Homo sapiens: one gene and its partners. The protein of the gene in region 1 purifies or fractionates together with the protein of each later gene. This does not show direct contact. Each region holds a gene or a part of one and is shown in the gene's direction. Other genes may lie near its edges.

The links.
Region 2: the proteins of SHC2 (region 1) and MTG2 purify together in Homo sapiens (affinity purification with mass spectrometry; one large-scale study listed by BioGRID and IntAct). This does not show direct contact.
Region 3: the proteins of SHC2 (region 1) and PRORP purify together in Homo sapiens (affinity purification with mass spectrometry; one large-scale study listed by BioGRID and IntAct). This does not show direct contact.
Region 4: the proteins of SHC2 (region 1) and SARDH purify together in Homo sapiens (affinity purification with mass spectrometry; one large-scale study listed by BioGRID and IntAct). This does not show direct contact.
Region 5: the proteins of SHC2 (region 1) and TMLHE purify together in Homo sapiens (affinity purification with mass spectrometry; one large-scale study listed by BioGRID and IntAct). This does not show direct contact.
Region 6: the proteins of SHC2 (region 1) and SDR39U1 purify together in Homo sapiens (affinity purification with mass spectrometry; one large-scale study listed by BioGRID and IntAct). This does not show direct contact.
Region 7: the proteins of SHC2 (region 1) and CYP24A1 purify together in Homo sapiens (affinity purification with mass spectrometry; one large-scale study listed by BioGRID and IntAct). This does not show direct contact.

Annotation. Positions count from the first base shown.
Region 1 is NC_000019.10:433,216-437,320, reverse strand, and holds part of SHC2 (SHC-transforming protein 2), read left to right. Parts: intron 1-637; coding exon 638-691; intron 692-889; coding exon 890-941; intron 942-1,029; coding exon 1,030-1,156; intron 1,157-2,455; coding exon 2,456-2,612; intron 2,613-4,105. UniProt on the Homo sapiens protein: Signaling adapter that couples activated growth factor receptors to signaling pathway in neurons. Involved in the signal transduction pathways of neurotrophin-activated Trk receptors in cortical neurons.
Region 2 is NC_000020.11:62,181,299-62,185,980, forward strand, and holds the start of MTG2 (mitochondrial ribosome-associated GTPase 2), read left to right. Parts: upstream 1-1,729; 5' UTR 1,730-1,759; intron 1,760-4,682. UniProt on the Homo sapiens protein: Plays a role in the regulation of the mitochondrial ribosome assembly and of translational activity. Displays GTPase activity. Involved in the ribosome maturation process.
Region 3 is NC_000014.9:35,268,936-35,273,040, forward strand, and holds part of PRORP (mitochondrial ribonuclease P catalytic subunit isoform 1 precursor), read left to right. Parts: intron 1-1,465; coding exon 1,466-1,661; intron 1,662-4,105.
Region 4 is NC_000009.12:133,665,019-133,669,123, reverse strand, and holds part of SARDH (sarcosine dehydrogenase, mitochondrial precursor), read left to right. Parts: intron 1-2,253; coding exon 2,254-2,389; intron 2,390-4,105. UniProt on the Homo sapiens protein: Catalyzes the last step of the oxidative degradation of choline to glycine. Converts sarcosine into glycine.
Region 5 is NC_000023.11:155,508,160-155,512,264, reverse strand, and holds part of TMLHE (trimethyllysine dioxygenase, mitochondrial isoform 1 precursor), read left to right. Parts: intron 1-472; coding exon 473-592; intron 593-2,167; coding exon of another isoform or gene 2,168-2,189; exon of another isoform or gene 2,190-2,427; intron 2,428-4,105. UniProt on the Homo sapiens protein: Converts trimethyllysine (TML) into hydroxytrimethyllysine (HTML).
Region 6 is NC_000014.9:24,439,372-24,444,018, reverse strand, and holds SDR39U1 (epimerase family protein SDR39U1), read left to right. Parts: upstream 1-1,242; 5' UTR 1,243-1,249; coding exon 1,250-1,265; intron 1,266-1,566; coding exon 1,567-1,673; intron 1,674-1,758; coding exon 1,759-1,841; coding exon of another isoform or gene 1,842-1,910; exon of another isoform or gene 1,911-1,917; coding exon of another isoform or gene 1,918-1,921; intron 1,922-2,175; exon of another isoform or gene 2,176-2,223; coding exon 2,224-2,345; exon of another isoform or gene 2,346-2,880; coding exon of another isoform or gene 2,881-3,010; exon of another isoform or gene 3,011-3,092; coding exon 3,093-3,236; exon of another isoform or gene 3,237-3,526; coding exon 3,527-3,936; 3' UTR 3,937-4,253; downstream 4,254-4,647. UniProt on the Homo sapiens protein: Putative NADP-dependent oxidoreductase.
Region 7 is NC_000020.11:54,152,421-54,157,066, reverse strand, and holds the end of CYP24A1 (1,25-dihydroxyvitamin D(3) 24-hydroxylase, mitochondrial isoform 1 precursor), read left to right. Parts: exon of another isoform or gene 1-2,305; 3' UTR 2,306-3,621; downstream 3,622-4,646.

The DNA of each region.
Region 1 (4,105 bases):
TGCAGATGAGCACACAGACGAGCACGCAGATGAGCACACAGACGAGCACGCAGACGAGCACGCAAACGAGCACGCAGATGAGCTCGCAAACGAGCACGCAGATGACCACGCAAACGAGCAAGTAGATGAGCATGCAAACGAGCATGCAGATCAGTAGGCAAACAAGCATACAAATGAGCATGCAGATAAGCATGCAAATGCACTCACAGGTGCCCTTGCACGTGGACAAGGGAGTCAGGAGTGTGGGGCCGTCCCTCCCGTGGCTGCTTCGGGTGTGTGTGTGTGTGTGCATGTGTGTGGGGCTTGGGGTGTGTGTGTGTGAGCGTCTGGGCAGGTACATGTGTGAAGTGTTACAGTGGGGGAGGTTTGTCCTCTCACACACATTCCCGTGTGACCTCCTGCGGACCCCACACATCCCTTAGGGCCCTAGTCCCTTCCTTGCTGGGGACTCCACATCCCAGCCTCGGTCGTCCAGGCTGACCCAGGACCCGGCTGCAGTGGGTGCCTGTCCAGGAGACGTCTCCATCCCCACATCCCTGCCCCTGCCCCACTCTTCGCTGTGGTCCTGGTCCATCTGCCGGGCCCCCTGCCCTCGAAGCGGGGCCCCCATGACCGCGTGTGCCTCCTGCCGCCACAGGTCATCGCCAACCACCACATGCCGTCCATCTCCTTCGCGTCAGGCGGAGACACGGTGAGGCCAGGGATGGGGGTGGACCTGCAGCCCTGCCGCCCCCCTCCGGCCGCGAGACCCTCTCATCCTTCCCCAGAGCCCGCCTAACGTACCCTGTGCCCACATCCACTGCCCCATCTCTCTGCATTGCTGGGGTGGGCAGCTGGGAATCCCGGTGGGGGGCCCAGGCAGGTCCAGCTGGCCCCTCCCCGCCCCCAGGACATGACGGATTACGTGGCCTACGTCGCCAAGGACCCCATCAACCAGAGAGGTGAGGCCCCCGGGGAGGCCGGTGGGGGTCCTGTGGCTGGGGGGCACGGCCGTGTGGCTCGGAGGCTGCATGACCAACGTGCCCGCAGCCTGCCACATCCTGGAGTGCTGTGAGGGCCTGGCACAGAGCATCATCAGCACCGTGGGCCAAGCTTTCGAGCTGCGCTTCAAGCAGTACCTGCACAGCCCGCCCAAGGTGGCGCTGCCCCCAGAAAGGTAACCAGAGCTGCCTCCCCCGTGCCCTGGGGACACCCCCAGTGACCTGCCCAGGTGCAGAGCCTGCTCCACCTCCTGCAGGCCTCAGCCTCCGTCCTGCCCTTGTCCCTCCCTCCCTGTCCCGTGAGAATATGGCTCAGCCAGAGGATCCTGTTTCCTCGGCTGTTAACACCCGAGTAAACGCATCCCCGCCTGCCCCCCAGGATTGGGGAGGACTAAGCAAGCTGACTCCCCGGTGTGCCTGAGGCTGTCAGCCCTGCTGCTACAACCAATATCCCTCCTCCAGACGCGCGGCCGGCTCCCGCAATGGGCAGAAAACGGCCTCCGTCTCACCGCAGAACATGTGTAAAGGGGGGGACGTGTCTGTGTGCTGGTAACACGTTTTTTATAGACATTGAAGTGTGAATGCCACGTGTTGCAAAATATGATTCTCTAGATGTTTTCTCAAACACTTAACTTTGATAATTTAAAGATTGAAAGCCCATTCTTAGCTCGTGGGCCACACAGATCTAGGCGGTGAGCTGGATTTGGCCCTGGGCTGGGGTTTGCCAGCTGGCCTTGGAGAAGGAGCTATTTAAGTCTCTATTCATCATTAGAAAGTCAGCTTCCTCCAATGGTGGGAGGGCAGGTGCAGGTGCATGAGCTCCCAGCCTGCTGGTCACGAGGGAGGCGGCATCGCACGCCTGCTCACACTCACCCCTTTGTGCACGGGGACAGCGTGCTTGATGCACGTTGCTCAGCACGCTCCGAAGCTGAGACGGGCTCCTCGCCTGCCTCCAGAGCTGCCTCTGCCTTCCGTAGGCTGCTTCATAATTTATCCCAGCAGCGACTGTGGGCCAGGTGGGGTGCACCCCTCTGGCTCTCGGGGCCGTGCTTGCTGAGGAGCACCTGCAGGATCAATTCCTGCCAGTGCCATCGGGGCCAGAGGGCGGGGGCGCTTTGATCCCAGAGAGTTGCCACCCTGACCGGTGATGTCCTGGTTCTGGGTATAAACTTGGCTCATGCCCTCTGCTGCCGGGCGGGGCCGGAGGTGGGCAGAAAGGAGTGGAGACTGGGTTTGCCAACGACCTGCCTTTTGTGCTACAGCTCGGAAATGTGTGCAACATTCCATTTTATAGATGAGGAAGTAGTGGGCCTGGTCACTGGCTCTAGAAGCGTTTCCCGGTAGGAACCCTCAGTGACAGGTGGGGGGCTGGGATTCGAACTCAGATATTTCCTGCTCCCCCAGAAGCTCAAGCCGTAAGGCTTTAGCCCCCTTGGGCCCTGCCTGTGCCATGGCCGTTGTTGTCTGTCCCCCAGGCTGGCAGGGCCGGAGGAGTCGGCCTGGGGGGACGAGGAGGACTCTTTGGAGCACAATTACTACAACAGCATCCCGGGGAAGGAGCCGCCGCTGGGCGGGCTAGTGGACTCCAGGCTGGCCCTGACACAGCCCTGCGCCCTCACGGCCCTCGACCAGGTCAGCCTCTGCCCTCGGGGGGATGGGGACAGGGATGCCCCAGCTGCTGGTTCCCTGGACCTACCTCCAGCTCTTCTTTCTGCTCCTGTTCTCCTCGATCCTAGAGGAGGGTCTCTCACTCAGACTCACTCACTCACTCACTCATGATTTCACTTACTCACAGACTCACAATCTCACTCACAATCTCACAGGCTCACGATCTCACTCATGATTTCACTCACTCACAGACTCACGATCTCACTCACTTGCTCACTATCTCACAGACTCATGATCTCACTCAGTCTCACTCACTATCTCACTCACAGACTCACGATCTCACTCAGACTCATCATCTCACTCACGATCTCATGATCTCACTCACTCATGATCTCACTCACAGACTCATGATCTCAGTCACGATCTCACTCACTCATGATCTCACTCACTCATGATCTCACTCATGATCTCACTCACTCATGATCTCACTCAGGATCTCACTCACTCACTCAATCACAGGCTCACAATGGGGCGCCGTGTATCTGCCCGGCCTCCTCTATCTCTCACTCACTATCTCACTCACGATGAAGCGCCATCTGCCCGGCCTCCTCTAACTCTCACTCACGATCTCACTCACGATGAAGCGCCATCTATCTGCCCGGCCTCCTCTAACTCTCACTCACGATCTCACTCACGATGAAGCGCCATCTATCTGCCCGGCCTCCTCTATCTCTCACTCACGATCTCACTCACGATGAAGCGCCATCTATCTGCCCGGCCTCCTCTATCTCTCACTCACGATCTCACTCACGATGAAGCGCCATCTATCTGCCCCGCCTCCTCTATCTCTCACTCACGATCTCACTCACGATGAAGCGCCATCTATCTGCCCCGCCTCCTCTAACTCTCACTCACGATCTCACTCACGATGAAGCGCCATCTATCTGCCCGGCCTCCTCTAACTCTCACTCACGATCTCACTCACGATGAAGCGCCATCTATCTGCCCGGCCTCCTCTAACTCTCACTCACGATCTCACTCACGATGAAGCGCCATCTATCTGCCCGGCCTCCTCTATCTCTCACTCACTATCTCACTCACGATGAAGCGCCATCTATCTGCCCGGCCTCCTCTATCTCTCACTCACTATCTCACTCACGATGAAGCGCCATCTGCCCGGCCTCCTCTAACTCTCACTCACGATCTCACTCACGATGAAGCGCCATCTATCTGCCCGGCCTCCTCTATCTCTCACTCACGATCTCACTCACGATGAAGCGCCATCTGCCCGGCCTCCTCTAACTCTCACTCACGATCTCACTCACGATGAAGCGCCATCTATCTGCCCGGCCTCCTCTAACTCTCACTCACGATCTCACTCACGATGAAGCGCCATCTATCTGCCCCGCCTCCTCTATCTCTCACTCACGATCTCACTCACGATGAAGCGCCATCTATCTGCCCGGCCTCCTCTAACTCTCACTCACGATCTCACTCACGATGAAGCGCCATCTATC
Region 2 (4,682 bases), on another chromosome or scaffold:
TTTCAGTTAGGGAGTCATCTCCCTTGATTGTGTTCTTTTCCTGTCAATTTTCATAGACCTAATTTGCAAACTCAATCGGGGACTAAAATTTCCCACTGAAAATGTTAAACATTTTAGATAACTGTGAAGATAGTTTATTTTTATTCCTTGCCAATCTGGGAATATGCCTTTTTTGTGTGTTTGTGTGTTTTTTTAAGTGCTGTATTAATAATACTTTCTGAAAGAAAAGGACACTTACCCCAAAACTTCAATCTGAAATGTCTTACATTAAGAATATCTTGAATGTTGTGTATATATTTTAAAAAGCACTTTGCAAAATAGTTTGTACATTTATTTCCTAATTTATACATGATTTTTGGTGTTAATATATTTAATGATTAATAACAGAATGTTTATTTAATGTGCTGTCCATTTTTATGTAATATTATGGGGAAAGTGATGCCAGCAGTTCCTTTTCATTATTCTATCTTCTGTCATATGAATGTTGAGCAAAGCTTAGGCCAACATGAATTGTTTGTGAAGTGTGGTTGATGGTGCTTTGTTTTTTTCTGACTACTTCTATGGAAGGCCAGTGAAGAAGCAAAGGAAGACATGAAAATTGACGCTCATTCTTCTTCCTATTGTTCCCTGACATCCAGCAAATTGTGAATTTGAAAAATGATGGCCAGTTTTCAGAAGTGCTGACAAATTCATATTGGTATGCAAAAGCTCATCACCCATTAAGGTTTGTTGTTGAATCAACAGTACTCAGCATATTAAAACAGTACATCAGAACTCATGCCAACAGTCTTTATGATGGGATTAAGGTGGACAAGATCTCCTAAGATCTGTGAATGGGATTAAGGTGGACAAGATCTCCTAAGATCTGAAAAGAAACCTTAATACGCTCATATGGTTGGAGTGTTAAGTGAACCTCTGATTTTGTCAGGGTTTTTCTACGTGTAGGCGTGAATAGGGGGCACCCCTTCAAAACTGTACAAAGAAGACGACTGTTTTCCATTTCCATTTAAACATTTTTAGCCACTTCATTTCTATTTATTGAACAGGTCAAATTTGTCTTGTTATTTGTGAGTACAGTACATTTAAAAAACATCCTTATCGGTTATTTTTTTTTCAGTCGGAGTTTGACGTATAAATTGTTTATGCTTTTGGTGTAATCTCTTAATAAACTGGTTCTTCAAAAATCATCCTATAAAGTGAGTTTTCATGAAGTTAACGGGATTTTGGTGTGATGTGTTTTGCAAATACTTATTACCGAGACCAGGTAGATCGTCACCTCGGCTCCCGGGCAGAGTTCGCGTGCGTCCGCACCGGATTCCCCGCGGCGGCAAGGCGAAGCCAGGGTAAGGGCGGTGGGGACGGCGCCCCGGGGCTGCCCTGCGGTCCCCACTGCCTGCTCTGCGTTGCCCCGTAGCCTCCTCGGGCAACGGCGGTGTCCTCGTCAGACCCGGGAGGTTCCGCAAACGCCGGAGGGGTCAGAGAAGCTGGGGGACCTTGGGCACCGGGTGGAACGGGCGGGGCGGCTGTCCTTGTGCTCGGGCAGCGAGGGCGCCGGCGAGAAGCGCGGCTGCAGCTGAGCGCTCCGCATCCCTCCTGCCGTTGCTCCTGCTTCCGCTACCAGGGACAAGGTCGCCTCTCGGTCCGTCGGCGTGTTTTCTGCACCTGCGCACTGGGCAAGCCTTGGGCTTCCGGAGCCAAAAGGCCCCGGAAGTGGTCGGCCGCTTGCGACGCTCCGGAAGTGACGTGCTTTCCCGAGCCGGTGAGTGCGGGAGCGGGGAGCGGGGAGCGTGGGCCTGGGGGGTGGTCGCGGCCCGGGCGCAAGGAGGGGCCTCGGCTTGGGCCGCGGGGTACCGGGGCGCTGGGAGCGGGAGAGGCCCCGGCCTAGGAGCTGAGAGGCCTGGAGGGCTGCCGGGCTGCGAACCCCGGCGGGACCGAGCGCTGCGGCCCTGGAGTAGCGAGCGCTCGGGCGGTGGGGAGCGGCGCCTTGCTCCCCGGTCCTGCCCCACTCTCTCCGCAGAACCGCGTTTTGGGGTCAGAAGTCTTGTCAGCCACCCCGGTGGTGCTCTGTCACGGGATGGGTGCCGTGTGTGAGTTCCGAGTCAAGTTGTTAGGAATTTGCCTTGATCCAGCGCTCTAAGTATTAAACATTTTAAAGTGATTATTGGCAGTATACAGTTGCACAAAACAACATAAATATATACACATTTGGATGATAAAACAACAATAAAGTTTTGTATTGTAAACGCGCCTCAGGGAGACGCATTTCCAGATAATTCACTGTCCGTGGCTGGCTTCTGCCCAGTGAGAGCGGGTTACCCGTTCTATTCCCATTTACGTTCTCGTAGCTGTGGATACCGAGGAACGGCGTTCACACAGACCTGTAGGTGGGAATTAGAGGGGTTGTTGGGCAGTGTCACTAGAGAAATACCTTTCTTTTGTAAAGGGGAGGACCCATTATAAAAGGGGGACGGGAAAGGAGAATTCAAATTGTTTTAAACGCAGGTTCGTCCTCAGGCAGTTCTGTTTTAGCAGAGAGAACGTAGCGAAACTTGGGCAGAAAATGGATTCCTTTGAAATTATCCTGGCCTTAGTCCCTTGGGAAGTCTGTGTAGGCGAACCTCAGTGAGAAGATTCCTGCCGTAAAATGCAGGTGTCAGCAGCATGCCAGGGAGGCCAGAGGATACTATGTGACTTTGGGCAAGTGACTGAACCTCTGTGAGTCTCAGCCTCCACTGCTTTAGATGGGCATAAAAAATGTAAAGTCAAGAATCAGGTTTCCGCTGGGCGCGGTGGCTCACGCCTGTAATCCCAGAACTTTGGGAGGCCAAGGCGGGCAGATCACGAGGTCAGGAGTTAAAGACCAGCCTGGCCAACATGGTGAAACCCCATCTCTACTAAAAATACAAAAAAGTAGCCGGGCGTGGTGGCAGGCGCCTGTAATCCCAGCTACTGGGGAGGCTGAGGCAGGAGAATCGCTTGAACCTGGGAGGTGGAGGTTGCAGTGAGCCGAGACCGCACCACTCTGCTCCAGCCTAGGCAACAGAGCGAGACTCTGTCTCAAAAACATACCCAAAAAAAAAAAATCAGGTTTCATGCTCACAGGAGGATTTGAGGAGGGTTTATAAAGGGACCGTTTGCAAAGGCAGAGTGCAGGTTAATGACAGTTGGTCCTTTAGCCTGGAACTGGTGGCAGTGGAGTTTCTACTCCTGGACTCCAAAGGATCAGGGAAGGCAGCAGTGATCGGGACAGGGAGAAGAGTCACTGGGGAGGGCTTCTTGGACTGGAGGTGTGAGCCTCAGTCTGAGTGGGCAGGGAGGTCCATGTCCCGGCCTCCTGCTCCTGCCTCCAGTCTCTGGTAGAGGGCCAGGTCCCAGTAGGTTTTCCTATGGGGCAAGCTCAGGCTCCTGACACACAGCACAGGGCAGGGTGGAAAGCTGGTCTGGAAAAGCAAATGGAAGATAGCTCGGCATGCAGTATTACCCCTCGCAGGGTATTATCGTTAGGAATACATTTAAAAGTGGATATATTGGTTGGGTGTGGTGGCTCGCGCCTGTAATCCCAGCACTTTGGGGGGCCGAGGCAGGTGGATTTCCTGAAGTCGGGAGTTCAAGACCAGCCTGGCCAACACGGTGAAACCCCGTCTCTATTAAAAATACAAAAATGAGCTGGGTGTGGTGGTGGGTGCATGTAATCCCAGGTACTCGGGAGGCTGAGGCGAGTGGATCACTTGAACCCATGAGGCGGAGGTTACAGTGAGCCAAGATCCCACCATTGCTCTCCAACCTGGGCTACAAGAGTGAAACTCTGCCTCAAATAAAAAAGAAAAAAAATGGCCAGGGCGTGGTGGCTGATGCTTGTAATCCCAGCAATTTGGGAGGCTGAGGTGGGCGGATCACGAGATCAGGAGTTCAAGACCAGCCTGGCCAACATGGTGAAACCCTGTCTCTACTAAAAATACAAAAATTAGCTGGGCGTGGTGGCATGCAGCTGTAATCCCAGCTACTCGGGAGGTTGAGGCAGGAGAATCCCTTGAACCCGGGAGGCAGAGGTTGCAGTGAGCTGAGATCATGCCACTGCACTCCAGCCTGGGCGACAGAGCGAGACTGTCTCCAAAAAAAATAAAAATAAAAAATAAAAAATAAAATATATACACATACATATATATACATGTATATGTATGTACACAAATTAGCTGAGCGTGGTGATGGGTGCCTGTAATCCCAGCTTCTTGGAACGCTGAAGCACAAGAATTGCTTGAACCCAGGAGGCGAAGGTTGCAGTGAGGTGAGATCATGCTATTGCACTCCAGCCTGGGAGTGAGACAGAGTGAGACTCTTGTCTCAAAAAAAAACCTTTCTGTGATGAGGGCAGTGTTCTAATATGTGCTGTCCCATATGTACCCACTCGTGACATGTGGCTGTGTGCACTTAGATGTTACCTCAGGGACTGAGTTTTTACATTTCAGTTAATTTTAGCCAAATGGCCACATTTGGCCAGTGGGGACTGTGCTGGACAGGTCAAGGACAGCCTTGTTGGAAGGAAAATAAAGACACCAAAGAGCAGCGTGAAAACAGTGGGATTTGTTCATCCGGCAGGGGAGAGAGCACAGCACTCAGCGGGCCTCCAAAGAGAAATTGAAAGGGCAAAAAGGAGGAAGCAAATTAGGCAAGACTCCGAGTTC
Region 3 (4,105 bases), on another chromosome or scaffold:
ATAAAGCAAGGGAGAAGCAAACCTCTCATCCAGTTCCCAAACCACATCCCTTCTTTTTTTAGCTGGAAGATGGTGCTTCCATTTCTCCAAGAGCAGAAGACCTAATGGCAACATTGGGTAGACAGTAAGATTGTAGGCTTGGGAATTAGTTTACCCAGGTTGAGATCATGGCCCTGCCACTCCCTGTCTGGGAAAGGTTTTTCCTTTCTCTCTGTCTTCCTTATCTCTTGTGTAACTTTTATGGGGTTGTTTTAAGGATTAAATAAGATAATATGTGTAAATAACTCATGTAAAACTCTTGGCATAGCACCAAGTACATGGAAAACATATATGTTAGTTGCTGTCATGATCATTATTATTTTCCTTATATGGAAAAATTAGATAAATTTGAAGTGTTATGACCAAGAAGCCTGTTGGAAAGTGGTCTCACTGCTTGGTTTGGGGTCTGTATTTATTGCATCAGCTGAAATTCCAAACTCAGTTGTAACGATCAATTCACTGACCTTCTTTGTCGCTTTGGATTTGAATATTTAAGTGTTTAACATTAAATCTGTTTTCCACTAATGTGCCAAAGAAGCTTTTCAAACATACACTAGAGAGAATAATATAGTGAATAGTGAGTCCTCATGTAACTGTCACCCGGCTCCAACAATTACCATCATTTTGCTAATTTTGTTCCATAAACCGAATACATTTTTTCTTTTTCTTTTTTTTCTGGAGAGTTATAAGGCAAATTTTGTCATTTTATCATTTCACTTGAAATACTTCAGGATAAAGAAAACTTTAAATGGTCCTATTTAGGGTCATTTGAATCAAGGCATAGGGCATATCACAAGTTGCTGTCTGAATCTCCTAAAGCAAGGTCGTTACTGCCATTTTTACAGCACATTTATTAAAATAATAAGTGCTAAGGTTGATGGTCTGTTGGAGGCTTTGAGTCACTGGCTCTTACCAAAGAAGATGTTTTGGGGTGCTGATCCAGGTGACTGTCTAGAAGCTGCTCTGAAATACCAGTTCAGCTTTAGGGGCAGCCAGTTATTTGGTGGCTTGCAAGAAAGTCTCATCCTGCCCTAGTAGTATTTTGGGTGTTTCTTGAATTTGGGTGAAGAGAGAGGGAAAAGGTGTGCTCTGTGATAGATAAGGCAAATAGGAAAAATGCCCAAAGAGAAGCAACTTTTAAGTGTGAAGAGAGCATTGTTAGAATTCATCGTTCTAGTGGAAGAGTCCAGTGAGCTGTGAGAATCCCAGGCATTAGCATTCTGTTCCCCTCAGCTTTCCATCTGTGTTCTAGATAGTATTGCTTACCAGCTAAGGACTTTGAGGTGGTTCTTAAGTATTACTAGCATCATGTTGGTCAAGAAATCAGAGGCACCTCCAAGGAAAGTAAGTAAAAAGTACGGTGAAAAACACTGTCCTCTGCCTCTTCAGCTGTGCTTGATTGTGTCCTTTCTTATGCCTGGTTCAGCTCGGAGGATGATCCATTCCTTCTGTATGCCACACTGCACTCCGGGAATCACTGCAGGTTTATCACAAGAGACCTGATGCGGGACCACAAGGCCTGTCTGCCTGATGCCAAGACCCAACGCCTGTTTTTTAAGTGGCAGCAGGGACATCAGCTGGCAATTGTAAATAGGTTTCCAGGATCAAAACTAACCTTTCAGGTAATGGTACCTGTTCTTTATGTAATATTAACAGAGTCAAGTATACAGTAAGAATGTGGCATAGAAAAAGAGTGTCACAACTAATTGAAGGTTGCAAATGCTTTATTTTTCTCAGTTTTAGGTTAGTATTTGGAACTAGCCAGGTCCTAGAAAGAGTCTGCTAGAGTTTTCATAGGCCAACCTCAAATTAATTAAAACACTTAGGGGCCAGGCGCAGTGGCTCACACCTGTAATCCCAGCACTTTGGGAGGCCGAGGTGGGCAAATCATGAGGTCAGGAGATCGAGACCATCCTGGCTAACACGGTGAAACCCCGTCTCTACTAAAAGTACAAAAAAAAAATTAGCCAGGCGTGGTGGCGGGTGCCTGTAATCCCAGCTACTTGGGAGGCTGAGGCAGGAGAATGTCATGAACCCTGGAGACAGAGCTTGCAGTGAGCCGAGATCACGCCACTGCACTCCAGCCTGGGCGACAGAGCAAGACTCCGTCTCAAAAACAAAAAACAACATTTAGGATATACCAGTTTTGACTTCAATTAATTATGTCACAAATTATGACTTCTTTTTTTTTTTTTTTTTTTTGAGACGGAATCTCACTCTGTCGCCCAGGCTGGAGTGCAGTGGTGCAATCTCAGCTCACTACAGCCTCCGCCTCCCAGGTTCAAGCGATCCTCCTGCCTCAGCCTCCCAAGTAGCTGGGACTATGGGCACATGCCACCACGCCGAGCTAATTTTTGTATTTTTAGTAGAGGTGGGGTTTCACCATGTTGGTCAGGCTGGTCTTGAACTCCTGAGCTCATAATCCACCCACCTCAGCCTCCCAAAGTGCTGGGATTACAGGCGTGAGCCACCATACCCGGCCATAAATTATAACTTCTTACATGTGTTTTTTATTTTTGTTTATTTGCAATAGCTCAAATTCTTTATTTCTTATAGTTTGTTATACTTCTGCTAAGTAATTTGTTTTCCCTGTTTAATTCATTTCTATGACAGTCTCAATTGAATTCTCCTTTGATTCTAGTTAAGATATCTATAATATAAGGACACATCTTGTGTGAAAGCAAAGGGAGAGAATCCAAAGTGAGTTATTACAGAAAAGTACACTGGCCCGTGGTATAATAAATAAGGTTCAATTATCAAAAAATATTGGCTGGGCGTGATGGCTCACACCTGTAATCTCAACACTTTGGGAGGCCAAGGCAGGTGGATCACTTGAGGGCAGGAGTTGAAGACCAGCCTAGCCAACATAGCGAAAACCTCATCTCTACTAAAAATACAAAAATTAGCCAGGCGTGGTGGCGTGTGCCTATAATCCCAGCTACGTGGGAGGCTAAGGTACAAGAATCGCTTGAACCTGGGAGGCAAAGGTTTCAGTGAGCCAAGATTGTGCCACTGCTATCCAGCCTGGGTGACAGAGCGAGACTCCGTCTCAAAAAAAACAAAAAAAAACAACAAAAAAAAAACGGAGATGTTGGTCAAAGGAGAAAAAATTTCAGTTAGATAAGAGGAATACGTTCCATGATGACTGTAGTTAATAATAACAATGTGTTGTATCATTGAAAATTGCTAAGAGTAGATTTTAAATGTTCTCACCACAAAAATTGTAAGTATATAAGGTAATGCTCATGTTAATGAGCTCAATTTAGCTATTCTACAATGTATGCATATTTCAAAAACATGCTATACATGATAAATATGTATAATTGTTATTCGTCAATTTAAAAATAAGTAAGAAAGGCTGGGTGCAGTGGCTCACTTGTGTAATCCCAGCACTTTGGGAGGCCGAAGCAGGAGGATTGCCTGAGCCTAGGAGTTTAAGACTAGCCTGGGCAACATGGTAAGACCATGTCTCTATAAAAGTAAGTAAATAAGAATATCCAAAACAATAAATTTATAGTAAATGTGGTATTAAATGATACCATAGTGATTCAAGATATAGTTGAAGAACTATTAATTCTTAAGTATAATAAAGGTATAAAGGTATTGATCTTACATTTATAAAATAAGACCTTATTTCTTAGAGATACATACTGAAGTATTACAGAAGAAATTACATATCTGAGATGGGAGGGCAGCGTATGGATGAAATAAGACTAGAGATGAATTGATAATGGCTGAAGCTAGGTGATGAGTACATGAGAGTTCATTATAGCATTTCTCTACTTTTGTTTACATTTGTCCCTTGGTATCCATGAGGAATTGGTTTCAGGACCTCTCACAGATACTAAAATCCTCAAATGCTCAAGTCCCTTATATAAAATGGCATAGTATTTGCATATAACCTACACACATCCTCCTGTGTACTTTGAATCATCTAGATTATTTATAATACCTAATACAATGTAAATGCTATATAAATAGTTGTTTCTGTATCTTTTAGGGAATAATGCCAAGAAGAAAAAAAGTCTGTACATGTTCAGAACACAGTTTTTTGTTGTTGTTGTTG
Region 4 (4,105 bases), on another chromosome or scaffold:
AGAGGGAGGGTGAGGGAGAGGGAGGGTGAGGGAGAGGGAGGGTGAGGGGAGATGGAGGGTGAGGGAGAGGGAGGGTAAGGGAGAGGGAAGGTGAGGGAGAGGGAGGGTAAGGGGAGAGGGAGGGTGAGGGAGATGGAGGGTGAGGGAGAGGGAAGGTGAGGGAGAGGGAAGGTGAGGGAGAGGGAGGGTAAGGGAGAGGGAAGGAGAGAGAGAGGGAGGGTGAGGGAGAGGGAGGGTGAGGGAGAGGGAGGGTGAGGGGAGATGGAGGGTGAGGGAGAGGGAGGGTGAGGGGAGAGGGAGGGTGAGGGGAGATGGAGGGTGAGGGAGAGGGAGGGTGAGGGAGAGGGAGGGTAGGGGAGAGGGAAGGTGAGGGAGAGGGAGGGGGAGGGTAAGGGGAGAGGGAGGGTGAGGGAGAGGGAGGGTGAGGGAGAGGGAGGGTGAGGGGAGAGGGAGGGTGAGGGAGAGGGAGGGTAGGGGAGAGGGAAGGTGAGGGAGAGGGAGGGGGAGGGTAAGGGGAGAGGGAGGGTGAGGGAGAGGGAGGGTGAGGGAGAGGGAGGGTGAGGGGAGAGGGAGGGTGAGGGAGAGGGAGGGTGAGGGAGAGGGAGGGTGAGGGAGAGGGAGGGTGAGGGTGAGGGGAGAGGGAGGGCGAGGGGAGAGGGAGGGCGAGGGAGAGGGAGGGTAAGGGAGAGGGAGGGTGAAGGGAGAGGGAGAGGGAGGGTGAAGGGAGAGGGAGAGGGAGGCTGAGGGAGAATGAGGGTGAGGGAGAGGGAGGGTGAGGGAGAATGAGGGAGAGGGAGAGGGAGGGTGGGGGAGAGGGAGGGAGAGGGAGGGAGAGGGAGGGAGAGGGACGGTGAGTGGAGCCGTGTCGTCGTCATCCTGTGGCTTCTCCCTGGGTGCCTGTCAGGCTCTGTCTCTTGTGTGACAGCCTGTCCAGCTCCCTGAATCAGCTCAGCTCCTGGAGAGGGGGCCCCTTGCAGACAGGTCAGCATCCATGGGTCCTTTCTGCTTGCCTGACCCCGACCTTCTGGCCCTCCATGAAGTACCTGCAGCCTGATGTCTGGGTTTAGGAGGGCCTCGGACGGCCCCTGTGACCCAGTGCGCTCTGCTCAGGGGTTTCCTGTCAGGCTGCATAATAGCTGCCCTGCGCCGCGGCTCTGGACTGTTGCAGTTCCAGGACAGGCGCAGAGAAGATGCTGGCAGTGGAGTCACAGAGAACAGCCCTGCCACACTGCTCTGGGACTCCGGGCAGTTGGGGCCTCAGCGTCCTCACGTGGAGAACAGAAACTAGGGTGACACCAAAGATGTTTACGAAACCTCCTTCCAGCCTCGTCCTAATCTGATGGACAGGTGGGACCCAAACAGTGACTCCAGGCTGAGGATGCAGGAGGTGCCCTCAACATCACCCCAGCCCTTCCATTCAGGGACCCCTTTGCATAGCTGCCGCCGTGATAACCCATTGCACAGGGAGAAGTCTGCAGACTGGCAACAAAATGTTACCAGTTAGCCCTGGGTGCTGGCCTTTCTTTGATTTTAGCTTACTTTTTTTTTTTTGTCTTCCTGCTTTTAATCTTTAAAACTTTTACAGTGAGCATTCATGTATTACATGTAGTAAAGTCCTTTGAATAAAGTATGTATTGTACTATAAAAAAAATGAACCTGGCCGGGCGCAGTGGCTCAAGTCTGTAATCCCAGCACTTTGGGAGGCTGAGGTGGGCAGATCACTTGAGGTCAGGAGTTCGAGACCAGCCTGGCCAACATGATGAAACCCCATCTCTATTAAAAATACAAAATTAGCCGGGCATGGTGGTGGGTGCCTGTAATCCCAGCTACTCCGGAGGCTGAGGCAGGAGAATCGTTTGAACCTGGGAGGCGGAGGTTGTAGTGAGTCTAGATTGTGCCACTGCACCAAAAAAAAAAAAAAAAAAAAAACCAGAGTTGAACAACAATGGAAGGAAATCGGAAGCAGGGGCCCTCCCAAATATACGGGGCTCGCTTCTGGAAACAGCAAAGTCCACTCCTGGTTTTGATGTTTTCTATTCATCCCTTTTACTCACTCGAAGCCCGAGCCCTGCTGTCCAGGCCAGGTGCTGGGCTGGCTCTGGGGACCAGCGTAGTCCTAGTAGGCCAGCCCTATCTGCCTGGAGCCACGGTTGGGTGTGCATCATGCAGCCCCCCATTCTCCTCCAGGCCGCTGTGGACGCGTCCCCACCCTGCGGTTTCTGGGGCCCCAGCTTTCTCTACTGCTTCTTCCAGCAAAGTACCCATGTTTGGCCTGGAGGCCATCTGGAGGAACGGCCAAGTGGTGGGCCATGTCCGGAGGGCTGACTTTGGGTTCGCCATCGACAAGACCATCGCCTACGGTTACATCCATGACCCCAGCGGTGGGCCGGTGAGTCCCCTTCTCTGGCCCTGCTAAGGCAGATGCCGATCCCTCACCAGCTCCAAACCAGCTCCCTGCACTGCACCCTGAGTGTGCCGGGCATAGGGAGGAGGCACGGGTGTGGTCCAGAAGAGGAGGAGGGAAGAGAAAGGAGGGAGGAGGGAAGAGGGGGAGGAAGGAAGGAGGAGAAGGAGGGGGAAGGAAAAAGGGGAGAGAGGAAGGAGGAGGAGGAGGGAGAGGGAGGAGGGAGGGAGAAGGAGAAGGGGGAGGAAGAGGCCTCAGCAGGTGGAGGACTCCCCAGCTGTGCCTGGGCAGAGCCAAAGCTGCTCTCTGTTTTCTTTCTGGAAGAATCCGACTTTGGTGATTCCAGGCTTTTTTTGGTTAGAAGGAGGTGCCAGCCAGCCAGGCTGATACCTTCCAGCTCCTCACACCAGAGACCCAAACCTCAGGCCACCCACAGCCCACCCTTTGCCTGGGGTGCAGGGGTGGCCCCCAGGGTGACCGACTAGAGACTCAGAGACCCATGTTCCTATCCTCTCTTTCCTCACCCCCGACACCCCTGACCCCAGGCAACCCCACCCCCTCCAGGTGACCCTGACCCCTGGCTGCAGGAGGCAGGAACAGGCTGGAAAGAGCAGGCACTGCCCCCAGGAGCAAGTCCCAGGACAGCTCTGGGTGGCCAGGGGTGGTGGGGCAGGGGGTGGGCAGCCTCCCCAGAAGGGGAAGGGGTGGTCTCTACCTCCACCTCCTTTTCCCATCTTTCTGGCACTGCAAGTAGAGGTGCCGGTGAGGAGGGTCGTGTCTCTCCATGGGAGCCGATCTGACGTTTGGCCTAAGCCCTAAGTGAGGCCGGGAGGTGCTGGCCTGGCTCCAGAGCCTTCCAGCCTGAGCCCCTGATGGACACGTAGAGGGAATTGGGGAGGGAGCGAGCACTTGGGAGAAGCCATGAGGAGGGGTAGGCTGGAGACGGAGCAGCCTTAGCAAGAGCTGCAGAACATGCGCAGGCCCAGCTCGCAGGCCCAATGGGGAGGGGACACCGCCAGGCCTCGGGCAAGACCATGGTCCTGTGGAGCTGTGGGGAAGTGGCAGCCCATGGGGCTGAGTCCGGCGGTGGAGCTGGGAGGCTGGGGACACACTTGATGCCACTAGCCTTTGGATCTGCCTTTTACTTGCTTTGTGACCTTGGATAAGGATCCTCTCTTGGAGCCTCAGTTTCCTCATTTATAAAATGTGGACACTCACCTACCATGCAGGGCTGTCATACAGGCCACTGCACAGAGTGAGTCTTAATATGTGGGGATTGTGATGGCATGGCTCCCACGGTGGGCAGGGCCTCCTGACACAGCCCTGGGGCCATGGTCCTGGGGGCCACAGCCCTGGGGCCCAGCCAAACCGGAGTTTATGGGCTCCATGCCAGGGTGGGCTGGGGAGTGGAGGCTCCTTTGCCATTTCTTCAAAGAACAGTAATGCTCGCCTTTCTCCGGAGTCAGGGATGGGTCCATAACCAACGTGACCAGGGAAGCCGAGGTTCCGAGGTTAAACGGCATCCAGACAGGCAGCCGGGGAACCAGTCGATGCACCCAGAGCGGCCGGTGCACGTCTCCTGCCCCCTCCATCAGGGCTGTCCAGAGCATTTGCACCATGGAAATGGGCAAATGCTACAGTCACACCCACCTCACCCCAGAGCTGGTTGTTAAACATTTTCTAGCACCCAAGTGGGGTAAC
Region 5 (4,105 bases), on another chromosome or scaffold:
GGTGCAGCGCACCAGCATGGCACATGTATACATATGTAACAAACCTGCACATTGTGCACATGTACCCTAAAACTTAAAGTATAATAATAATTAATAAAATAAAATAAAAAAATCACTTCCAGAAGCAGCTATATCTTTTTCTGTGAAAGAAAGGTGAGCATAGAAAAGAACCTTGAATTTATGAAGGCTATGAAAACTGGGCACATAATCAGAGTGGGATGATTCTCCAAGCTTTCATAATACAATATTATACTTCCACAGTTTTCTCCCCAACTTTCTAGAATGTTAATAAGTGACAGAATTGTCAAGACTAGCATGTTCAACTGTCATTTTCACCTTATGGATTAAATTCTGGAACCAAAAAAATCTACTGTTATTTGTGAGTAACTAAAGAAGGTATTGGAAGGAGTTTTGAAAGACAAGAATGAACATTTCAAATAGCTAACAGGTCTTTCTTTATTTCAACTAACAGAGAAACCATTTATGGGAGGATGTGGTATTTCACTTCAGACTTCTCCAGAGGTGACACTGCGTACACCAAGCTAGCTCTGGATCGGCACACTGACACTACCTATTTTCAAGAGCCCTGTGGGTAGGTGGATTAGACTTTTACAGTGTAAAGTCTTTATATGTGATAGTCTTGAGTGGTTTCTTAATTATTTTCCATTCTGTTCGAACCAAGATCATATCTGCTCCTGCAGATTTGTATGACTTTCTCTTCCCCTAGAAACATGATCATTTTGAAATACCTTAACTCAGTTTTTAGATTCTGTATTAGGCCATTCTTGCATTGCTATAAATAAATACCTGAGACTGGGTAATTTATAAAAAAAAAAAAGAGAGATTTAATTGTCTCATGGTTCTGCAGGCTATACAGAAAGCATAGCAGCATCTTCTTCTGGGGAGGCCTCAGGGAGCTTCCAATCATGGTGGAAGGTGAGCGGGGAGCAAACAGTTCACATGGCAAAAACAGGAGCAAGTGAGAGAGAGTCAGGGAGGAGGTGCCACACACTTTTAAACAGCTAGCTGTCACAGGAACTCACTCACTATCTGAAGACAGCACCAAGCCATCAGTTATCCACCTCCATGAGCTAAACACTTCCACCAGGCCCTACCTCCAGCACTGGAGATTACAATTCAACATGAGATTTTGGTGGGGATAAATATCCAAACTATATCAGACTCCTAGGAATAAAATATTTTTAAGTTCTCAAAAGAAGACATTTATGCAGCCAAAAAACACATGAGAAAATGCTCATCATTACTGGCCATCAGAGAAATGCAAATCAAAACCACAATGAGATACCATCTCACACCAGTTAGAATGGCAATCATTAAAAAGTCAGGAAACAACAGGTGCTGGAGAGGATGTGAAGAAATAGGAACACTTTTACACTGTTGGTGGGACTGTAAACTAGTTCAACCATTGTGGAAGTCAGTGTGGCGATTCCTCAGGGATCTAGAACTAGAAATACCATTTGACCCAGCCATCCCATTACTGGGTATATACCCAAAGGATTATAAATCATGCTGCTATAAAGACACATGCACACGTATGTTTACTGTGGCACTATTCACAATAGCAAAGACTTGGAACCAACCCAAATGTCCAACAACGATAGACTGGATAAAGAAAATGTGGCACATATACACCATGGAATACTATGCAGCCATAAAAAATGATGAGTTCATGTCCTTTGTAGGGACATGGATGGAGCTGGAAACCATCATTCTCAGCAAACTATCACAAGAACAACAAACCAAACACCGCATGTTCTCACTCATAGGTGGGAATTGAACAATGAGAACACATGGACACAGGAAGGGGAACATCACACTCTGGGGACTGTTGTGGGGTGGGGGGAGGGGGGAGGGATAGCATCGGGAGATATACCTAATGCTAGATGATGAGTTAGTGGGTGCAGCACACCAGCATGGCACATGTATACATATGTAACAAACCTGCACATTGTGCACATGTACCCTAAAACTTAAAGTATAATAAAATAAAATAAAATAAAATAAAATAAAAAGAAAACTCATCTTACTATATAAATGGAGTCCTAATTTTGTTAATTATTAAAATGTAATTTTACATTTTTCAAAGTAATTATAAATTATCCCCCAAAAAAGTATTGCCTAACCATTAGTTTTGGAATTTGTACAGATTTCTTGCATTTAGTTATTAACATATTGCAAAAGGGTCGTCATGCAAACACAGCTGCTTTGAGTATGGCATTAAGAAGAATTTGAATCTGATTTACAAGAAGTTGGAGAGGAGGAATGATGGAAGAATAACTTCTTCACACGGAATAAGATGCTTTTGAACCAAAGATGATACATACTATACTCAATTTTCCTACCATTTGCTCTTCAGTAGAGGCACCTCTGTGGTTATTCCGTGTTCTTGATCTTGCTTCTGCATTTAGATGGTGAGCCTGAGACACAAAGATATGAGTAAAATGAGTGCACATAGATTTATGGAGACTATATGAGAGGATGATAATATGCAATTGCTCATGGTTACACTGATTTCCTTTAAGGGTTTATAACTTAAGAATGTTTGATTCAGGGAAGGAAGAACAAAGCAGCTTTTAGATATCCTGATAAATGTTATCAATATATGGAGAGATCAACAACCCTGCATCCTCATTCTAGTGGATACAGAAGGAAAAAAGAGGAAATGAGATAAGAAGCAGCTGTACAGGGGTTGAGGTTCAAATACTGACTAGCTCTTCCCTTTATGACCAACACCAGAGATAAACAACTGTTTGTGGCTTTAGTTTAATTGTTTGTAATCAATGGCAAGGACCAAGTAAATTAGCAGTATGGTAATAGCACTTAAGAGTTCAGGCTATGGCATCAACCAGACCCAGATTTGCATTCCAGCCTCAACATGTATTAGATTTGTGATCTTGGACAAGTAACTTAATTTCTCTGTACTTCAGTTTCCTCATCTGTAAAATGGGACTAGTAATATAAAACCTATCCATTAGCATTGCTAAGGAATTAAATTATATGATCATATTGCCTGACACAAACTAACCTATCCATTAGCATTGCTAAGGAATTAAATTATATGATCATACTGCCTGACACAAACTAAGTGTTCAATAAATATTAGCTATAATTTTCATCATTTTATTCATTTTAATCACTATCTTCATTGTTATATGCTTTACTCTCTCTAAAGCTATCTTTGCTCTGGATCTCATCCTTTCCAGCTTCCTTGGGGATTTCTCTCTCCTCTATCTTCAGCCTTTCCATACCTATTGACTCCTTCTTATCAGCCTCCCATATCTTAATTCTCTATTTTTGTACTTCCTTGGACTCTATCTCCGTTTAGCTACAGCCATGTTTTTTTCTTCCACTTCATGGCTAAGATTATTAAAAGAATAATAGCTACATTCAATATATTTTCATTCTCACTTCCCATTTACTCCTCAAACCCATAGGCATCTAGTTTTCCCAACCCACCCCTCACCGCAATTAAAGTTACTCTCTCTAACGTCACCAGCAACTAATTGTCATATCCAGTGTGTACTGTCATCTTACTTGATCCCTGAGACATACCATTAACCACTACTAAATTTCTTAAATATTCCTTCTTTCCTAGTTTTCTTCCTATATATCTGACCATTTTTCCTCAGCCTCCTTTGCTGGCTTCTTTTGTCTATTTCCTAAATATTATTCTTCCTCAAGGTTTTCTCCTTATCCCTCTTTTCTTACTTGAAATGATCTCTCCAAACGACCTCTTCCATGCTCTTGGCTTTAGCTATCACTTGTAACAAAATCCACCTCTCTTCCTTAAACATCTTTAACTGGTAACTAAATAACCCTGACCTAGAAGTTTCACAGAAATTTCAATATGGCCAGGCTTACCTTTCTCTTTTTAATTGTATTTATATTATATTAGATTGTCCTTGATTTTACTCCATATTTTTGTTTATTTCTTATTTTAATTTGCTTTTTACTTTTTCTTAGTTTTGCATATTTGATTAAATTACTATTAATTTTATTTTCCCTCATAAGTTTGAAAATTCTACCTTAGTTTTCCAGTCAATTAATAGTCACCTTACCTTTCCCTGTTAACATATTCAGAAAC
Region 6 (4,647 bases), on another chromosome or scaffold:
CCGGGAGGCGGAGCTTGCAGTGAGCCGAGATCCCGCCACTGCACTCCAGCCTGGGCGACAGAGCGAGACTCCGTCTCAAAAAAAAAAAAAAAAAAAAAAAAAAAAAAAAAAAAAATTGGAAACCTATGTATTTTTTAGCATAATACACATTTTCCATGAACTTTTCAAAGACCCCTCTTAGATAAATCTGGGAGAGATTCAGTATTTAAAATCAACAGGGTTTCAGACGTCCAAGAAGAGATGTGTAGTGAAAAGTTTTTATAGGGGTTAGGAGCTCAGAGGAGAGATCCGAGTTGCATAGGAGATTTGGGATGTCTTCTGTTAAAGCCTGGTAACTGAATTCAAGGCATAGATGCCTAGGGTAAAGTGCAGATTGGAAAGAGAAGGTCCTAGGATCCAGCTCTGAGGAATACCAATATTTTAAGAACTTAGCAGAGGTGGAGCAAGCATCAGAGACTGAAAAAAGGTACGAGAAAGCCGAGAAGAGAATGTCTTTCACTGAAGCCAAACATTTTCAAAGGGAGGAAGGAATCAGCAGGTGCCCATTGATACTGAGAGGTCAAGAAAACTAACTGAAAACTAGGGATTAGATTTGGTGACACATGGGAAACTTATGTTCTTGGAGAGTGAGGAAATGAATGATAAAGGCACAAACCCTATAGGAGTGAAGTAAGAAGTAGAAAATGGAAACCACACTTGTGGGAAGTTTGGCTATGAAGGCAAAAAAAAAAAAGAATATTAGCTGGAGGAAAAACAGGTCTGGAGAAGGCTTATTTTAATATAGGGGGATCTTTGGAATGTTTAAATGTTGATAGAAAGGCTCCAGCGGAAAGAGAGAGAAGAAAAAACTGGCCGAGTGGAAAGAAATCCAGATTACCGGTGGAAGGGTTCTCTTGCATTACTGACCCGCCAACTTAATAGACATCCAAAATTCTGAGGTCTGGGTAGCTTCGGGTTTTAGGTGAAGGGTTTTGTTGGTTTGGGTTTGGTTTGGTTGGTTTTCTACACTAAAGCCTTCCCTCCTCCGCCCTTTCCGGGTCCATCGGTCTAATCCCTCCCACCTCGCTTGCTATTGAAACACCCAGCCTATATTTACAAGTTTTTCCGGGTCGCCGAGAAGGGTCACGCACAGGATTGCGACCTCGATTGGAACGCGCTTCCCGAAAGGGGCATGCGCAGAGAGGTCGTAGTCGCGTCTGAGGTGAGGTAAACTCTAAACTTTACGCAGGCGCGTTAGGTCCTAGTCGCTATGCGTGTGCTTGTGGGTGAGGGAGGGCAGAAAGGGAGAGTGCTGGGCGGGCTTAGTCGGAGATTGAGGACTGGGAATCCGCTTCCGGGAGGGCACTGTCTAGTGCACAGGCAACCTGGCCTTGGCCTCCTAGCCCGAGAAGCCGAATCTCCCTAATCCCTGTGACCTGTGTCACCTCTGCATCGCGAGGAGGGGGATAAGTGGGGAGAAGCCTGGTGTCAGATGGGATGGCGCCGGAAGAGGGTGCCACAGCGGGGACGGAAGGCGCCCCCACCCCAACTCCACGGGAATATAAACAATTTGTATTTTCCGATCAGGTGGCGGGACAGGCTTCATTGGGACAGCCCTAACCCAGCTGCTGAATGCCAGAGGCCACGAAGTGACGTTGGTCTCCCGAAAGCCCGGGCCCGGCCGGATCACGTGGGTAAGTCCATCCTCTGGAAGCGGGTGGGAGGGCAGAGTTGGGCGGCGCAGGGCGGGGCAGGGGCACTGTGTGCTTTCTCCGACAGGATGAGCTCGCTGCATCGGGGCTGCCGAGCTGCGATGCCGCCGTCAACCTGGCCGGAGAGAACATCCTCAACCCTCTCCGAAGGTCAGCCCGGGCCCTAAAGCTGATACCCACTAGAGCACAGGGAGGACAGTGCCCCACTGATGAGAACCTGTGAGCTATGGGTAATGGAGCTCCCAGATTCCGAACTAAACCGATATCCCAGACTACTCATTCTGCTCCACTCCTCCACCCCCACCTGCTCCTCCACCCAGTCAGCCAATTGGCTTAAGTCCTCACGTATAACTCAGGATGCCCAGGAAATGAATGCCCTTTCCCTCTACAGGAGACGTTGACTGTTTCTCTTAAGCCGAAATTCAGGGCTTTACAAGAAATTGGTATGAAATAGCTCCCAGGAAAAGACAGAGAGAGGGATATGTGCACTTATGTATTTAGTGGCTTTTTATTTCCCATGTTTCTCCTGCAGATGGAATGAAACCTTCCAAAAAGAGGTAATCGGCAGCCGCCTAGAGACCACCCAATTGCTGGCTAAAGCCATCACCAAAGCCCCACAACCCCCCAAGGCCTGGGTCTTAGTCACAGGTGTAGGTACGCCCCCCAAATCACCAGCCCCTTATATTCGCCAGGGGAACGGGGTAACTCAGACCTCTGTAGCTATGCACACACCAGAGCACTGGTCTTTTCCAGGCAAAATGACTTCCTAGGCCCTTGATCCATGCATGTTTCTCCTAACCTTTGTGTACTTTCACTAAGAAATTGAGACCCTGAAAAAACAGTGGGGAGTGGCATCACTCAATGCCAGGGAAAAGTCCACCTATCCCAAAGTCCCTTACTTCTCACACCATAGTTCTTTAGGAACAGAGTTCCTGGTCACCTTTGGGACCAAGTAATTGCAAACAATTATACACACCAGCCACTATTTGAAGTGTTTTATGCTTATTATCATTTATTCCTTACAACAACCCTATGAGGTAGGTACTATTATTCCCATTTTAAAGATGTGAAAATTCTATACAGAGAGGTTAAGTAACTTGCATCAAGTCAGAGAGTTAATAAATGAGGGAGCTGATTAAAATTCAGGCGCCTGGTACCCAAGTTCCTGTTCTTAACCACTACACTCTAGCAGCCTCTAAGTTTAGCCCTGCAACCAGAGTTCCTCCAGGGAAGGAACGCTTCAGGTCATGGAGAAGTTCAAGGGGAAAATATCCAAATGGCTCTGTCTCCAAATGGGGAGATCCTAAGGGCCAGAGAAGGTGAGGCCAAGGGGAGCCTCCACTACAGAGAGCCAGGCAGGACCAAGGACACCCAGGGCAAATGATTGTGTTCCACCGGCAGCTTACTACCAGCCCAGTCTGACTGCGGAGTATGATGAAGACAGCCCAGGAGGGGACTTTGACTTTTTCTCCAACCTCGTAACCAAATGGGAAGCTGCAGCCAGGCTTCCTGGAGATTCTACACGCCAGGTGGTGGTGCGCTCAGGTGAGAAACGGGCCTGGGTATCAGACAGGGTTGGAATGTCTTCTCTGGGCTGGGGAAGTGATGGGATTAGGAGAGCTGAGATTACAATTACAGAGTGAGAGGATGCCACCACTTCTAGCCAACCTGCAGATGAGAAGGTGTGAGGTCTTAAAGACAGCCATACTGCTCACTTCTGTTACAGAGCCAAGTCAGCATGGGGAGAGTGAGGAAGGGGAAACAGAAACCAGGAGGAGCAGTGGGCTCCTTCAAGGCTGAGAGGACCCCTGTACCTTCCCTCTTTCCTGCTCTAGGGGTTGTGCTGGGCCGTGGGGGTGGTGCCATGGGCCACATGCTGCTGCCCTTTCGCCTGGGCCTGGGGGGCCCCATCGGCTCAGGCCACCAATTCTTCCCCTGGATACACATCGGGGACCTGGCAGGAATCCTGACCCATGCCCTTGAAGCAAACCACGTGCACGGGGTCCTGAATGGAGTGGCTCCATCCTCCGCCACTAATGCTGAGTTTGCCCAGACCTTGGGTGCTGCCCTGGGCCGCCGAGCCTTCATCCCTCTCCCCAGCGCTGTGGTGCAAGCTGTCTTTGGGCGACAGCGTGCCATCATGCTGCTGGAGGGCCAGAAGGTGATCCCACAGCGAACACTGGCCACTGGCTACCAGTATTCCTTCCCAGAGCTAGGGGCTGCCTTAAAGGAAATTGTAGCCTAAGTAGGTCGTGGCAAGGGCCTGAGGCCTGTTCCTCACAGGCTTCCAGGTTAGGCACTGTGAATAGGCTCAGCTCCTCTAGAGAGCTGAAGCCATCTGGTTCTTAGATTCCTCTCCCAGTCCTCTTTCCCATTGTTCTGTTGCTCCACCTTATTGTCTCAAGGCCGTAATCTCATCAGGTTGGGACATTAATCTTTTCAACTCCTTGTAAGATTTCCCAGTTTGGTTTCTCTACATGTCCTGCAGCTGCCCCACTTCTCCTTTACGCTGTGTAGAGAATGCTCTGCAGTTTAGGCAATAAAAATAAATTGTCTCACTAACCTTGGCTCATCTCTTTGGCCTAGATTCTCCTGGGATTTACTTCAAGGAATGTCACCCTAGATGATTCTTCCCCAAAGACGGGGTTTTGAAAGTTACAATGAGCAGTCTCTCTCATCACCGTTTCCCTTCTTGGTCCTTCAGTTGCCAAAAGAACTTGTCACAAGTTTGGGACATCAGGTTATGATAAAGATAGACACTAGAAGAGAGAATGATGATCCATTTCCAATGGGCCCTGTAGTCACCCTGGATGCTGTCAGAGTGCCATTAGGATGCCAGTAGAGGAAGAGGTAAGGCCCAGGTGTAGGATAGCCTTCAGTCTGTGTCACCAAATGGCAAGTGCATTACTAACCACACAGTGGTCCCAGTTTATCAGGCTGCAGCAGAACAAAGTCA
Region 7 (4,646 bases), on another chromosome or scaffold:
CCTCTAACTTGCTGGGTGACCTTGAGCAGTTCCCTAAACTCTCTACTTCCTTTTTTTTTTTCATTTGTAAAATGATGACCCAAAGAGAGTGTATCACAAAAATTTAATATGAATACCAAGTAGTTATTCCTGAGCCTGGCATCAATTAAGTGTTCAGTAAATGCTAGCAGCTGTTCATGGTTTTTGCATGTGAATAGTAAGGGTTGGCAAACTTTTTCCGTAAAGGGCCAGTTGGCAAATATTTTAGGTTTTATGGACCATACAGTCTTTGTCACATCCTCTTAATACTACCTTGGAACATGAAAGCAGCCACAGGCAATTTGTAAACTAATGAGTGAGCTGATGTCCTAGCTTTCTATTGCTGCCACCGCAAATTACTAAAACTTAGTGAGTTACACGACACACATCTATTATCTTACAGTTCTATAGGTCAGAAGTCTGATGAGGCTCTTCCAGGCTAAAATTATCGTGTTGTCGGGGCTCTTTCTGGAGGTTCTAGAGGAGGATCTATTCTCTTGCTAGTTTGGTTGTTGGCAGAATTTAGTTCTTCATGGTTACAGGACTGAAGTCTTTATTTTTTTGCTGCTGTCAGCTGAAGGCGATCCTCAACTTTGAGAGATTTCCCATATTCCTTGGCTCATGAAACCTTCCCCAACTGAAAGCCAGTAACAATGGTTGGTTGAGTCCCTCTCACACTTTGAATCTCTCTTTCTTCTTACATTGCTTCTGTCTGACAAGATATTATCCAGGATCATGTCTCCCATCTCCAAGTTCATAAATTTAATTTCATCTGGAAAGCCCTTTTTTTCATATAAGGTAGTATATTCACGTGTTCCAGGGATTAGGGCATTCACATTTTAGGAGATCTGTTATTCTGCCTACAAAGGCTGTGTTCTGATAAATTTTATAAAAAACAAGCGGTGGACTGTATTTAGCCCTAGGGTCTAGGTTTGTGTTATGCAACCACATGTAATATAAATGTATATATTTATCAGCCTGTATTGAACACAATAGAATATTTTTTCTGCAGTATGCCATTCAATACTTTTTCTGACAATAGAGGAGTTCTCATGTTCCCTCCACAACTTTTGCCATGTCCATATACCAACCAGGTGCTATTTATTTCAATACTACTGAGTTATTTCCTTTAAATAACATAAGCCAAATAGCATATGTTGGCCTCGTCCTGAGTAATAATTTCCTTAATGAAATTAAGAGTTAGTAAGTCTAGTTATGTTCTCCTAATAGACATTACAATGAATTCAAAACTATTGAAGTGATCAAAAGTTAGCCTAAGAAGGCCCTAATTTTTTTTTTTTTTTTTTTTTTTGAGACAGTGTCTCACACTGTCACCTGGGCTGGAGTGCAATGGTGCAATCTCAGCTCACTGCAACCTCCGCCTCCTGGGTTCATGCGATTCTTCTGCCTCAGCCTCCCGAGTAGCTGGGATTACAGGCAGGTGCACACCACCACACCCAGCTAATTTTTTGTATTTTTAGTAGAGATGGGGTTTCATTATGTTGGCCAGACTGGTCTTGAACTCCTGACCTCGTGATCCACCCGCCTCGGCCTCCCAAAGTGCTGGGATTGCAAGTGTGAGCCACCACCCCTGGTGGTGGAAATAAGACATTTGTAACATATGGCTTTATAGGCTGACATGTCGGTGTTTAAACCCGGATTCTATCATTGTGTTCTTTTAGCAGCACCTTCTAGGATTTTCCTAGAAAAAAATGCTGTTTGCCAATGGCAAGTTAAGGAGCATTTGCTTATTGGTAGATTATTTAGAGAAACATGCAATTACAGATGAAATTTCTGAACAAGGCCCAAATGAATACATTATTATTCCTCCACCAAGTGTCTGATGCTATTATGAAATTTGTCAAATTCTGAGCATCCCAACCAACAGAACTGAATCAAGTAGGGTAAGGAAAGTATTCTAGCTGCATTGTGACACCCCAGCCTTCAGCAAAGAGCATGCATGTTTATCACAGTAAGCCACACCTTTTAAGTTTTAGCATTTTTTCTTTGGCTAATAATTTGTCTTGTTTAAATACACTTCTTTGATATACAATTAGGGTATACCTTTTTTTTTTTTTTTTTTTTTTTTTTTTTTTTTTTTTTTTTTTTACCAAGACCAAAACAGCCATTTCAACTTTTCTGCAAGAATGGTGCTTATGGCTTCTACGTTACCGGAAAGCAAACTTCAAACACCACACCATACAACAGCTTATAAAGAATATTTAGGCCCAGGTGTTGATACTTTTTCTTCTGCAAAATTGTTCCAGAAGCTGTACTGTCTTTCTAGATGGTGGTATTTGCTAACATCATATCCAACTCAGGGAAGCGGACTGAGTGCTGGGATCCAAGGCATTCTACAGGGTTCACTGCTGGTTTACACTTCACCTGTGTCAGCACCATCTTCAGGTGCTTAGAATGGCCTGGGAGCCTGTTCTGTCTTGCATCTTCCATGACATGAAAGGGAGGCTGGCACTTGTCAGTCAGGTAGAGGTTACAAACCGTTTCAGGCCCTGCCTACCACATTCACTGTTTGAATCTTTAATTCCCAAGAATAAGTTTACATTTCACAATGAATGACCTACAACAGCTAAATTTTCTGGGGCTGGGAGTAATACTGACAATCCATTTACTGTAGCTCTGCTTAATGTACTACTTAGGAAAATGTCCCTGCTTAATAATGTAAGCCAAGCTAAATGATGGTTAAAGTTATCAGGCCTCCCATGAAATTGCGTTCTTCCTGCATTGAAATAAAAACATTATTGGGAAACTAGAGAACACCTCTATTTTTAAAAGGACTTTAACGAAGTCAAACAACTTATAAGACTAGTGATTCACTGGGGCATTATTTTGTTAGAGGACCTTAAAATTGTTTATTTTTTAAATGTGATTCCTTTATGGCATTAGGGTAAAGATGAAGCAATAATTTTTAAATTGTGTATGTGCATATGAAGCACAGACATGCATGTGTGTGTGTGTCTGTGTGTGTGTGTCCGTGTATGTGTGTGTGGGTTCTAATGGTAATTTGCCTCAGTCATTTTTTTAATATTTGCAGTACTTGATTTAGGATCTGTGGTGCAGGGCAATGTTTCAAAGTTTAGTCACAGCTTAAAAACATTCAGTGTGACTTTAATATTATAAAATGATTTCCCATGCCATAATTTTTCTGTCTATTAAATGGGACAAGTGTAAAGCATGCAAAAGTTAGAGATCTGTTATATAACATTTGTTTTGTGATTTGAACTCCTAGGAAAAATATGATTTCATAAATGTAAAATGCACAGAAATGCATGCAATACTTATAAGACTTAAAAATTGTGTTTACAGATGGTTTATTTGTGCATATTTTTACTACTGCTTTTCCTAAATGCATACTGTATATAATTCTGTGTATTTGATAAATATTTCTTCCTACATTATATTTTTAGAATATTTCAGAAATATACATTTATGTCTTTATATTGTAATAAATATGTACATATCTAGGTATATGCTTTCTCTCTGCTGTGAAATTATTTTTAGAATTATAAATTCACGTCTTGTCAGATTTCATCTGTATACCTTCAAATTCTCTGAAAGTAAAAATAAAAGTTTTTAAATATTTGAGAGACTTCCCCTCTTTATTGCCTTTGTTACAACAAAATAAAAACAAATTCAAACTTTATTTTACTGGTAGAAAATTTTCTCATATGGCCTACAAGCCCTATATCACAAAATTTACCCTTAGATAAATCTAGACTTTAATAGCAGTTTTACTGAAAGTTTATTCTTGTAATTGCAAAATAACTTTCCATTTTGTTGCTGCTTAAATATTTCCCAAGTCCAGTTACTTCTATCTCTACCCCCTTTCCAATCACACAATCAGTCACACACTGGTTGTGTGATTGAAAGGGGGGTAGAACGGCCTGGGAGCCTGTTCTCTCTTGTATCTTTCATGACATGAAAGGGAGGCTGGCACTTGGCAGTCAGGTAGAGGTTACGAACCATTTCAGCCCCTGCCTACCACATTCACTGTTTGAATACTTAATTCCCAAGAATAAGTTTACATTTCACAATGAAAGACCTACAACAGCCAAATTTTCCGTGGCTGGGAGCAATACTGACAATCTCTTGCCTGGACCACTAATATCTCTAGTCTCTGCAGGAGCTCCCAGCTGATCTCAGTCCTCTCTTGCTTCCTTCCCCTCTGTTCTTTGCACACTTGCCTTACTGGTCTTTTCAAACCCAAACCTGATCATGCCTCATCCTGCCTCTGGGGCTTCCCATTGCTCTTACGTAAAGATCCGATTCTGCAATCCACACTTCCAGGCCCTATCAACTGAGGTCCCACTGATCCCCCAGGCCTCAGCCCACATCATCCACCCCCAGAGGCCTCTGGAACCAGGCCACAGTGGCTTCTGCCAGTTTCTGCTGTTCCTTAAATGCTAGCAAGAGGGTTCTTCCCACCGTCTCCCTCCCGGCATGCTCTTTCTCTGCCTGTTCTTCTCCTACGCACCATCTACGTCCACCCAGCTTTCATTTCCTGAAGGAAATCTTCCTTGATGACTTAGATCCCACAGGGGCTGTCCCCAGCACCGGGATTCATTAGGGTTGTGATTCCCAAGGAGACCTGTGCGACTGTGGGGACAGCA